Linked DNA regions of Homo sapiens. The protein of the gene in region 3 purifies or fractionates together with the protein of the main gene of each other region. This does not show direct contact. Each region holds a gene or a part of one and is shown on either strand. Other genes may lie near its edges. The genes, in order: DTD2, FERMT2 and GBP1.

What was found.
Region 1: the proteins of GBP1 (region 3) and DTD2 fractionate together in Homo sapiens (co-fractionation; one large-scale study listed by BioGRID). This does not show direct contact.
Region 2: the proteins of GBP1 (region 3) and FERMT2 fractionate together in Homo sapiens (co-fractionation; one large-scale study listed by BioGRID). This does not show direct contact.

What each region holds. Positions count from the first base shown.
Region 1 is NC_000014.9:31,454,599-31,458,810, reverse strand, and holds the start of DTD2 (D-aminoacyl-tRNA deacylase 2), read left to right. Parts: upstream 1-1,304; 5' UTR 1,305-1,417; coding exon 1,418-1,528; intron 1,529-4,212. UniProt on the Homo sapiens protein: Deacylates mischarged D-aminoacyl-tRNAs. Also deacylates mischarged glycyl-tRNA(Ala), protecting cells against glycine mischarging by AlaRS. Probably acts by rejecting L-amino acids from its binding site rather than specific recognition of D-amino acids.
Region 2 is NC_000014.9:52,881,511-52,885,164, forward strand, and holds part of FERMT2 (fermitin family homolog 2), read right to left. Parts: intron 319-3,654; coding exon of another isoform or gene 286-318; intron 1-285. UniProt on the Homo sapiens protein: Scaffolding protein that enhances integrin activation mediated by TLN1 and/or TLN2, but activates integrins only weakly by itself. Binds to membranes enriched in phosphoinositides.
Region 3 is NC_000001.11:89,051,689-89,055,232, reverse strand, and holds the end of GBP1 (guanylate-binding protein 1), read left to right. Parts: intron 1-17; coding exon 18-120; intron 121-357; coding exon 358-551; intron 552-1,764; coding exon 1,765-1,878; 3' UTR 1,879-2,914; downstream 2,915-3,544.

The DNA.
Region 1 (4,212 bases), on a different chromosome or scaffold from region 3:
CCCAATTTGTTAAAGAAACCCTCTCTGTAGAAAGATCTCTGCGAACCACATAACCTATTCTCTATAGACCTCCCTATTTCCTGCAGCCACATACAAATGGACACCAAAGTCTTTTCTTATTCTGGGACATAGCTAATGGTTTGTATGTCAAAGTTTCTTTCAGGCCTGTAAAATCTGAATCTGAGAGCCGGAGAGAAAAGAGACTCAGTAGTTATAATGACATAAAGGTGCAGACATGAAGCAATTCAACTTGTCTGTGCTTTGCAGACAAATGTCAACAACTGTTGGAATCCCTGCAATGCAACAATCAGAGATCATGTGAGATTTTGCTTTCTGTTTTTACTAAAAGTGTAAACCTGGCTGCAAGATAACCAGCAAACAAGCAGCTTCGATTTTGTGTACAAAGGACTGTTGATTATGCATGGACTATTTTCTTCAGTCACACTACTTTGTATGGATAGCAACACTGTCAGTGATGTCATCTTTTTAAACAACAGATCCGAATGTATAGGCACATTGTGTCAACTGAGCCCAAATCAATGACCTGGGTAATGCAATCAGGGTAACACTATTATTCCTCATCTAAACCATCCAAGCCCATAGACAAATAAATGCTAATCTGATGCATGTTTAAGGAATACGTTACATGGGAAAGAAAATCAAGCCCTTGTTTAGTTTTATTTACATTCTAATATGTACTTCCAGAAAATGCATCACAGAATTTACGTCATATGCATCAGAATAAGCTGTTTTATTTTTGTATTAGTAGCGGGCTAAGTTATTAACAATCATACTTTCTTGGATAAGAACATTTTTAACAAGGATATCTTCTAAAGAATGTGTATTCGTATAGCATACCAATACCTTTTCACAACTGTGGAATCAGAATAATTTATGGCATTCCCGATAGAGGAGGCAGCATTGTTTTTATTGATTGGAATAAGGAAAATTTTGAAGGATGTATATATAGCTTTTAGTTCCATCTCCGCTTGCTTTATGATTCGATTATTTGTTTACTTACTTTCATATGGGCATAACATGAATTTAAATCAAGCAGATTTAAAATTTTTCAACAGTTGGAACCTAAGCTTTCTGAGGTGAAAAATGTTTCTTAAAAGGTTTGTAGGAAAGAGATTTAACGAGTCTTTTCAATCGTTTAATAAAAGTATACACTGAGCGCCTTCTACAGAGTTGGGCAGGTGCTGCCGAGAAGCTTAGCGCTACGCCGGCCTCCAAGACCGCACATCCGGGACATTCGAGAGTCAGTCCGAGGCCCCGCCCTCCTAAGGGCGGGGCCACTGGGCAATCGGCGCAGGCCCTTCGTCGTGCCCCGCCTCGTCTGCCCCGCCAGCGCGTCGAGGGAGGGGCCAGCGACACATGGCCTAGTAACTGTCCGGCCGCGGCGCTGGCTTAAGCCATGGCTGAGGGTAGCCGGATTCCTCAGGCCCGGGCGCTCCTACAGCAGTGCCTGCACGCCCGGCTGCAAATTCGCCCAGCCGATGGGGACGTCGCGGCCCAGTGGGTGGAGGTAACGTCAGCCCGGCAGCTCTCGTTATCCTCCGGCGTGCGGGGCGGTTTTTTCCGCGTTGTCTCGGTGACTCGTCCGCTCTGTGTCTCCCTCTGAGACCGGCGGTCCGGCCGCGGGGATACCGGGTCAGCTTGAAGCTGGCCGCGGTGGCCTGCCTGGCTGCGCTTGTCTTTTCGGTCCAGCATCACCGTTCCCCAGCGCCAGTTGTAGCACCCGAGAGGAAGAGCGTGTCTCCCTTCTTGGGGGGACCACAGGTATTTGAAACTGAGTTCGGTGAACTTCAGGCCTTACTGTCTCAGACCCCTTGCAGCTCGTGGTCTATGCTGGTCGGGGGCAAGCTTGTAGGTCAGGTTTGCTGCAAGAGTTCATGATCTGCTTTGACTTACGCCTCAGATCGCGTCGAATTCCCCCCTATGTTGACTTGGTCTTAGCATAGAAATGAGATTTCCTAAGAAACAATTCTATTTCAAGAAGCCTTTTAAAAGTTTTGACCAATTTCCAACTGAGAAACAAAGACCTCTACTTTTATAACAATGTTGCCTTATCAAACACATTTCTCCAAAGAATTTAAAACATTTATGTCACTATGAGTTCCTTCTACTTTCATACATACTTTACTTTTTAAGACCGCCTGCCCCCACTGCATACAAAAACAAATAAAATTTTCTTTAAGGCCTCTGACGTATTTTTGGAGTACGTTGAAATGTAAGAAAAAAATTAGTTCATAATTAAGACTTTTGTAGATACTCAGAAACTTCAGTGTAGCAAAATCTCATTCGCTCGCCTTTTCTGCTGAATTCGGTCCCAGATCTAGCATTACTTAAAACAATTTTAGTTATTATTTTACATTTATTTTATTTTTTATATTTTATTTATTTATATTTTATTTTATTTTTTGAGATGAATTCTCGATCTGTCGCCCAGGCTGGAGTGCAGTGGCACGATCTCGGCTCACTGCAACCTCCGCCTCCCGGGTTCAAGCAATTTTCCTTCCTCAGCCTCCCGAGTAGCTGGGACAACAGGCGCAAGCTACCACGCTAACTTGTATTTTTAGCAGAGACGGGGTTTCGCCATTTTGGCCAGGCTTGTCTGGAACTCCTGACCTCAGGTGATCCACCTGCCTCAGCCTCCCAAACTGCTGGGATTACAAGCCTGAGCCACCGCACCCCGCCTACTTATTGTAAATAGTACCCGTGAACTATATGATGTGTGGGTGATTATTCTAAAATCAGAATCTGTTGCCCTGTGCTAATTTGGAAATATAAGCATAGAAATTCCTGTATTCTTATCTCTCTCCTTTCCCAGAAATTCACTTTTCTTATTTCTTATTTTTGTCATGATTTTTTGTGAGGTCTTGATTTCCTTATTTGAAATTTTATTATTTTATTTTGCCATCCTATCTAAAGAATTAACCTGCCAGGCGCGGTAATCCCAGCACTTTGGGAGGCCAAGGCCGGCGGATCACTTGAGGTCAGGAGTTTGAGACCAGCCTGGCCAACATGTTGAAATCCCGTCTCTACTAAAAATACAAAAATTAGCCGGGCTTGGTGGCGGGCACCTGTAATCCCAGCTACTCGGGAGGCTGAGGCAGGAGAATCTCTTGAATCCGGGAGGCAGAGGTTGTAGTGAGCCAAGATCACGCCACTGCACTCCAGCCTGAGCCACAGAGTGAAACCTCATCTCAAAAATAAATAATAAATAAAATAATTATCCTTTTTTTTTTTTTTTTTTTGAGACAGAGTCTCACTCTGTCACCCAGGCTGGAGTGCAATGGCGCAATCTCGGCTCACTGCAACCTCCGCCTCCCGGGTTCACGCCATTCTCCTGCCTCAGCCTCCCAAGCAGCTGGGACCACAGGCGCCCACCACCACGCCTGGCTAATTTGTTGTATTTTTACTAGAGACGGAGTTTCACCGTGCTAGCCAGGATGGTCTCGATCTCCTGACCTTGTGGTCCGCCCACCTCGGCCTCCCAAAGTGCTGGTATTGCAGGCTTGAGCCACCGTGCCCGGCCGAATTATCCATTTTTATAGTTGCATCCAGACACTATAATTGCAAACTATCAGTCATTTAGTTTCCTTCCATGCTTATTTATCTTTTTTATGTTGTTCAGGCTACATCTCCTTATGCAAAATCACATGTATTTTATTGCTGGCATCCAAACTATCAGTTTGTGTTTATAAACTTAAAAACTATTTTAAAGGCTTTCCCTTTCACTCCTACACACATAACTAAATTAGTTTAAAGAGCTGACAAGTAATTTAGATGGTGAGAAAATGTAAATTCTTTCTTCTTACATATTCTCTACCCTGTTCTATTATTAAAAGTTCTTGTTTTTTTAGAAACAGCATTTTAATTGTCAAGATTTGAAGGTTACTTTCTTTGCTTGTTCTTAGTTTCATTCATTTAGAACTTTGCTGTCACAGACTAATGTTTTTGTTCCTGGTAAGTGAACTTTTTAAAGCTACAGTGAGAATTATCTGTATTTTTCTATATATTTGAAATGTTTTATACCAAAGAAGTTATAAGGAAAGTGATTTTTGACTTGAAGTCACAGCTTAACATCTATTATGGAATAAATGAAAGGCAAAGACCTTAATGAGGAGATAATGTTAGTGGAAAGAACAGGTATCGTTCTGCAAATGATTAGGTATTTATTTCTGACATTGCATGTGTCCAAATATA
Region 2 (3,654 bases), on a different chromosome or scaffold from region 3:
AGCATCTTATTTTTCAATAATAACACATATTATGATATAAAGCACATTGTGAAACAAAAGTTTTATTCTGAAAGGAAAGCTTAGTATATTATTTTACCTGTTATGAAAACATGTGTAATTAATTCTCCTTGTATAACATTAAAACACGTAATAAAGCCTTAAGAATATAATTAAGTTGGCAGAAATTCTGGGGAAAAAAAATCAGTTCAAGAGAATTAGAAAATAAGGATATAGCTGAAGCAGACAGACCAACACTTTTTGTCTTTAAATTGTGGCAAGGCTCACCTTTCAGAGGGCCAATGTAAAGAACATCAGTGCCTATAGGAAAGGAAAGAAAGGAATTCAGAAGGTAAAGGAAAGGCCACAACAGAGGACAGAAACAAAAGAATGAAAAGAAAATGAGAAAAAGAAAAAACAGATTTTCCCTAATTGTGAATCATAAACTGAAGTACACATTTCAAGTGGATTTCAGAGTAAAGAACCTTAGAAGCTACAACCTAAGTAAAACGGTTTTTTTTGTTCAATTTAAAAGAATGAAGTTGTGCTGTAGTCAAGTATATAGTGACAAATATGTCTACAACTTTTACCACCATTTGAAATCCATACAATTTGAAGGTAACACAATAGAACTGAATTCATATAGATTAAGAATAATTTTATAGTAAAGTCTTCTCAGTGAATAAACAGGTTTCAACAATTTTACAAATAAAGTTTTTTTTAATTTTTAAGTTCTGGGGTACAACAAATAAAGTATTAATGTAAAAGGGGAGATAAAAGTCTGCCCTAGAAAGAGTCTAAACAGAGATATATTTAATAGTCAAATCTCAAAAGGAAGGGATATTGCCTTATTTATCTTCTGATTTCTTAGTATTAGGGCTAGACATATAGTAGAGGTTACGTAAATAACAATTTGTTACATTAGTCAACAGATGGTATGTGCTCCTTTATTTAAACTACAAAAATTAAGGAGATGAATTTAAGGCATCTAAAAATGTTCAGAATGACATTAAGGACAAGCAGCTCCCCCAAGTCCTAGCTCTGTTAAATTATATTTTGTCCTGTTGTCATAATTTTTCAAAAGAAAATGTGCAATGGGCATAACACTGTTAATGTAAAGAAAATGGCTTTTCCATTCCCTAAATTTAGGGTTAAGCTTAGAAATCCATCTCCTTTCCTACTATTTTTAACTCTTCTCCCCATGCAATGATAGAAACACTGCCTGTGAAAAAGTGGTGCTAATGCTAGAGATTTTTGTAGCTGTCATGACCTAGTCTAGGAAGCAAAGTTAAAAAAAAAAAGTTTTTACTGAAAATATGTAATCTCTTGCTGGACACAGGATATTTGATTTTATGTCCCTGACATGTGTTCTTCCAATGTTAGTACTAAAAAAAACCTGTAAAATCTAGGCCAGGTGTGGTGGCTCACTCCTGTAATCTCAGCACTTTGGGAGGCTGAGGCGGTTGAATCACTTGAGGTCAGGAATTCGAGATCAGCCTGGCCAACATGGAGAAACCCTGTCTCTACTAAAAACACAAAAATTTGCCAGGAGTGGTGGTGCACGCTATTCGGGAGGCGAAGGCTGCAGTGAGCCAAGATTGCATCAATGCACTCCAGTCTAGGCAACAAAGCAAGACTCTATCTCAAACAAACAAACAAACAAACAAACAAAAAACCCTCTAAAATCCGAACACTGTTAATCCTAAAACACAAAGCAAAGTTGTGAACTCTTTATCAGCATTTAAAGAATACTGGGATCGTTAGTCCTGGGGCTTTAAAAGCTAGATCCTTAAACTAGACAGGTATTTTTCAAACTTAAAATTGTGTGACACCTTTTGAAAGGACTAATTGGGCACCCCACACTTATTAAATGTGCTGAACACATTACTCCAACTCAGTTGGGCAAAGGGTATTTCTGCTACAGAGTGTGCATGTAGATAAAGTGTGAAAAAACATTAACTTCTAGGCAAAGTCTTGTTTCTTTCAAAGATCTATTAAATAAATCTGTTACGAAGAATGTCAGTATACTGAAAATGTGCACCTGGTGAGATTATAATTTCTATCCAAAACTGAGTCAAGTTAGAATGGACAATTTGCTTTATAAAGTTTCTAATATAGAAAAGATACTCCCCCTAAATCACTGATATGGTTTGGATCAGTGTCCCTGCCCAAATCGCATGTCTAATTGTAATCCCCAATGTTGGAGGAGGGGCCTGGTGGGAGGTGACTGAATCACAGGGGTGGAGTTCTCATAATGGTTTTGCACCATCCCCGCTTGGTACTGTATAGTCAGTGACTTCTCATGAGATCTGGTTGTTTAAAGTGTGTGGCACCTCCCCACTCCCACCCCTACCTCCTGTTCCAGCCACGTGAAGTGCTGGCTCCTCCTCCGCCTTCCGCTGTAATTGTAAGTTTCCTGAGGCCTCCCCAGGAGCTGATGCCACCATGCTTCCTGGACAGCCTGCAGAACTGTGAGCCAATTAAACCTCTTTTCTCCTAAGTTACCAAGTCTCAGGTATTTCCTTATAGCAATTCAAGAATGAACAAATACAATCACACATTTAATAGAATCAGCCACCCACCCAAATCTGCGTTTCAACTTCCTATAGTTTGTATCTTCTTCAATTCATACTTAATCACTTCGTTGTTCTTATTTGTTCTGTAGGCACTATGTGATAATAAACTCACTTAGCGTTCACAACAACTCTATTATTCTCACTTCAGAGGAGCAAACTGAGGCAAAGCAAGGTTAAATAACTTGTCCAAGGTCAAGAGCAAGTAAGCTGCAGCCAAGCTATAAATCGGCCAGTCTGGGCAGGCGCGGTGGCTCAAGCCTGTAATCCCAGCACTTTGGGAAGCCAAGGTGGGCAGACTGCCTGAGGTCAGGAGTTCGAGACCAGCCTGGCCAACATGGTGAAACCCCGCCTCTACTAAAAATACAAAAAATTAGCCAGGCATGGTGGCAGCCTGCCTGTAATCCCAGCTACTTGGGAGGCTGAGGCAGGAGAATCACTTGAACCCGGGAGGCGGAGTTTGCAGTGAGAGACTGCACCATTGCACTCCAGCCTGGGTGACAAGAGCGAAACTCCGTCTCAAAAACAACAAACAAAAAAACCCCAGCCAGTCTGGCTGTAGGGCTACACACTGCCTCCATGTACTATAACTTACGTAAGCCATTCCCAATTGGTGTGCACCTATTTTTTAAAATTCTGTTACTGTAAGGTGGCTCATGCCTGTAATCCCAGCACTTTGGGAGGCCGAGGCAGGCAGATCACCTGAGGTCAGGAGTTCAAGACCAGCCTGGCCAACATGGTGAAACTCTGTCTCCACTAAAAATATAAAAAATAAGCTGGGTGTGGTGGTGCACGCCTATAGTCCCAGCTACTTGGGAGGCTGAGACAGGAGAATCGCTTGAACCGAGGAGGTGGAGGTTGCAGTGAGCAGAGATTGTGCCACTGCAGTCCAGCCTGGGTGACAGAATGAGACTGTGTTTCGAAAAATAAAAATAAAAAAATAAAATTCTGGCCAGGTGCGGTGGCTCATGCCTGTAATGCCCGCACTTTGAGAGGCCAAGGCGGGTGGATCACCTGAGGTTAGGAGTTTGAGACCAGCCTAGCCAACATGGTGAAACCCCGTCTCTACTAAAAATACAAAAAT
Region 3 (3,544 bases):
GTTCTCTGGGTCCTAAGGCTGAAGAGATTCTGCAGACATACTTGAAATCCAAGGAGTCTATGACTGATGCAATTCTCCAGACAGACCAGACTCTCACAGAAAAAGAAAAGGAGATTGAAGGTGAGGAGTGAGTTAAGAGATTAGATGGCCTCAAAAGCTCCAAAAATTGAAATAACTTGACTGGATAAACATGGGACCCTTTAACTAGAGCAAGATCCACAAAGGTGTGTCTTACTTGCCGAGGTCATCTCTGAGTAGGGCATATGCAGTCAGCAACAACGACAGGTAAGTGTATAAGGAAGAATGAGGCAACAAGATAACCCCACACAAATTTTTCTTCTGCCTTTTCCTCCTCAGTGGAACGTGTGAAAGCTGAGTCTGCACAGGCTTCAGCAAAAATGTTGCAGGAAATGCAAAGAAAGAATGAGCAGATGATGGAACAGAAGGAGAGGAGTTATCAGGAACACTTGAAACAACTGACTGAGAAGATGGAGAACGACAGGGTCCAGTTGCTGAAAGAGCAAGAGAGGACCCTCGCTCTTAAACTTCAGGTATCTAATTGCATCACCTTGAGGTTTCTGTTTTTCTGTTTTCTCTCCATTCTCCCTGATCGCAAACTTAGTGTGGCAGAGAGAACATGAAGCCCAGGGTAAGGACCCTGCTTGCTTACTTGTACTTTTCAATTCCTGTCTGTCCAGCCTGACTGGCTACTGCCAAGTCTGGTCACTGAAAGTTTTTTATTTGCAGTTGTGTAACATTCAGTCCTTTATCAATATATCCTTCATTTCAAGGAAGCTATTATCTGCTAGGCATCATTAAAATATCTGTATCTCGGTGGGGCATTGTGGCTCACGCCTGTAATCCCAGCACTCTGGGAGGCCAAGGCGGGCGGATCACGAGGTCAGGAGATTGAGGCCATCCTGGCTAACACGGTGAAATCCCGTCACTACTAAAAATACAAAAAATTTAGCTAGATGTGGTGGCGGGCACCTGTAGTCCCAGCTACTCAGGAAGCTGAGGCAGGAGAATGGAGTGAACCCAGGAGGCAGAGCTTGCAGTGAGCTGAGATCGCACCACTGCACTCCAGCCTGGGCAACAGAGCGAGACTCCAAAAAAAAAAATCTGTATCTCTTGCTTAATAACATATGTAGCAAGAACTATATCCTTATTACTTAGAAGAAGAAACAAAGGTTCCAAAAAGAATAAATAATTAAGTTCACACAGCTAGTAAATATATCAGAGCTGTCTTCATCACTTAGCGGAATCCACAATGATTATTTGTTTCTGTGACACCTACTATGAAATTAGATTTAAGAAACCTTTATGAGCAGAAAGGCTCCTAACCCTCACACCTGTGTGATACTCTGCTAATTCTGATTATTTTTAATGTCCTGCTCCCAGTTTGTTTTGAGTTGTGAGCTATGTGCAGAAACTCAGTATGGTCAGTCTGGCACTCAGATTTCTTACCTGTCTTCTGCTACCCCTGACACCAAGGTGTGGCAGCTTAGACCAAATTTCCTAATCCATGATTCATACACCTTATGAGATTTTGAGGATACTTTGCTTATTTCGGTGTTATGTCATATACATAATAGGGTAAGGAACATGGCTGTGCTTTGGTCAATGATAGGCCAAAGTATGACATTTACGTCTTGCGTGACTCAGAGAAAATTAAATAACAAATCATTTAATGTGGAAACCAGATAGAATGTTTCAATTTGCCTGATGCTACACTTTACTCAGCCTTCGTTTGTCCCTTTTTAGGAACAGGAGCAACTACTAAAAGAGGGATTTCAAAAAGAAAGCAGAATAATGAAAAATGAGATACAGGATCTCCAGACGAAAATGAGACGACGAAAGGCATGTACCATAAGCTAAAGACCAGAGCCTTCCTGTCACCCCTAACCAAGGCATAATTGAAACAATTTTAGAATTTGGAACAAGCGTCACTACATTTGATAATAATTAGATCTTGCATCATAACACCAAAAGTTTATAAAGGCATGTGGTACAATGATCAAAATCATGTTTTTTCTTAAAAAAAAAAAAAGACTGTAAATTGTGCAACAAAGATGCATTTACCTCTGTATCAACTCAGGAAATCTCATAAGCTGGTACCACTCAGGAGAAGTTTATTCTTCCAGATGACCAGCAGTAGACAAATGGATACTGAGCAGAGTCTTAGGTAAAAGTCTTGGGAAATATTTGGGCATTGGTCTGGCCAAGTCTACAATGTCCCAATATCAAGGACAACCACCCTAGCTTCTTAGTGAAGACAATGTACAGTTATCCGTTAGATCAAGACTACACGGTCTATGAGCAATAATGTGATTTCTGGACATTGCCCATGTATAATCCTCACTGATGATTTCAAGCTAAAGCAAACCACCTTATACAGAGATCTAGAATCTCTTTATGTTCTCCAGAGGAAGGTGGAAGAAACCATGGGCAGGAGTAGGAATTGAGTGATAAACAATTGGGCTAATGAAGAAAACTTCTCTTATTGTTCAGTTCATCCAGATTATAACTTCAATGGGACACTTTAGACCATTAGACAATTGACACTGGATTAAACAAATTCACATAATGCCAAATACACAATGTATTTATAGCAACGTATAATTTGCAAAGATGGACTTTAAAAGATGCTGTGTAACTAAACTGAAATAATTCAATTACTTATTATTTAGAATGTTAAAGCTTATGATAGTCTTTTCTAACTCTTAACACTCATACTTGAAAACTTTCTGAGTTTCCCCAGAAGAGAATATGGGATTTTTTTTGACATTTTTGACTCATTTAATAATGCTCTTGTGTTTACCTAGTATATGTAGACTTTGTCTTATGTGTGAAAAGTCCTAGGAAAGTGGTTGATGTTTCTTATAGCAATTAAAAATTATTTTTGAACTGAAAATACAATGTATTTCACTAGGCTTCTTATTTCTGATTTTCTTTTTTGCAGTTATTTTTATCAGAAAATAAGGTTTTACTCTTTATGGCAATGGCTGGTAATCTTTTCTGTAAAATACCAGATAGTAACGATTTATGGCTTTGCAGGTCATACAGTCTCTGTCTGAATTACTCAGCTCTGCATGTAGTGCAAACACAGCCATAGAAAATACATAAACCAATAGGTGTGGCTATGTTCCAATCAATTTTTACTTTCAATAACAGGATGGCACCCATAAGCCATAGTTTGCAGAACTCTGTTTTACAGAAACATTGGTCAGAGTTTTATATACCTGCATTGTGTTACTCACATGTATAAAAATCATATGGATTAGACTATATATATTACAATCTTGAAAAAACTATGCGGTTATTCAAAATAACACAGTGAGAAAAAAGCAAGGAAGCAGCTAATGCCATTAAATCCACATTAATAATCCTGTCTTTCCTAATTGCTTTGAGGCCTTTTGTTACCTTGAACTACCTGTGATCCAATCACACGGCAAATGCCTCCTTTCACAATAGAGCATGGTGCTGCCAAGCACTGTTTCTTCACTTGAACTGAAACTTTATAGAAGACCAGGTGAGAACACAG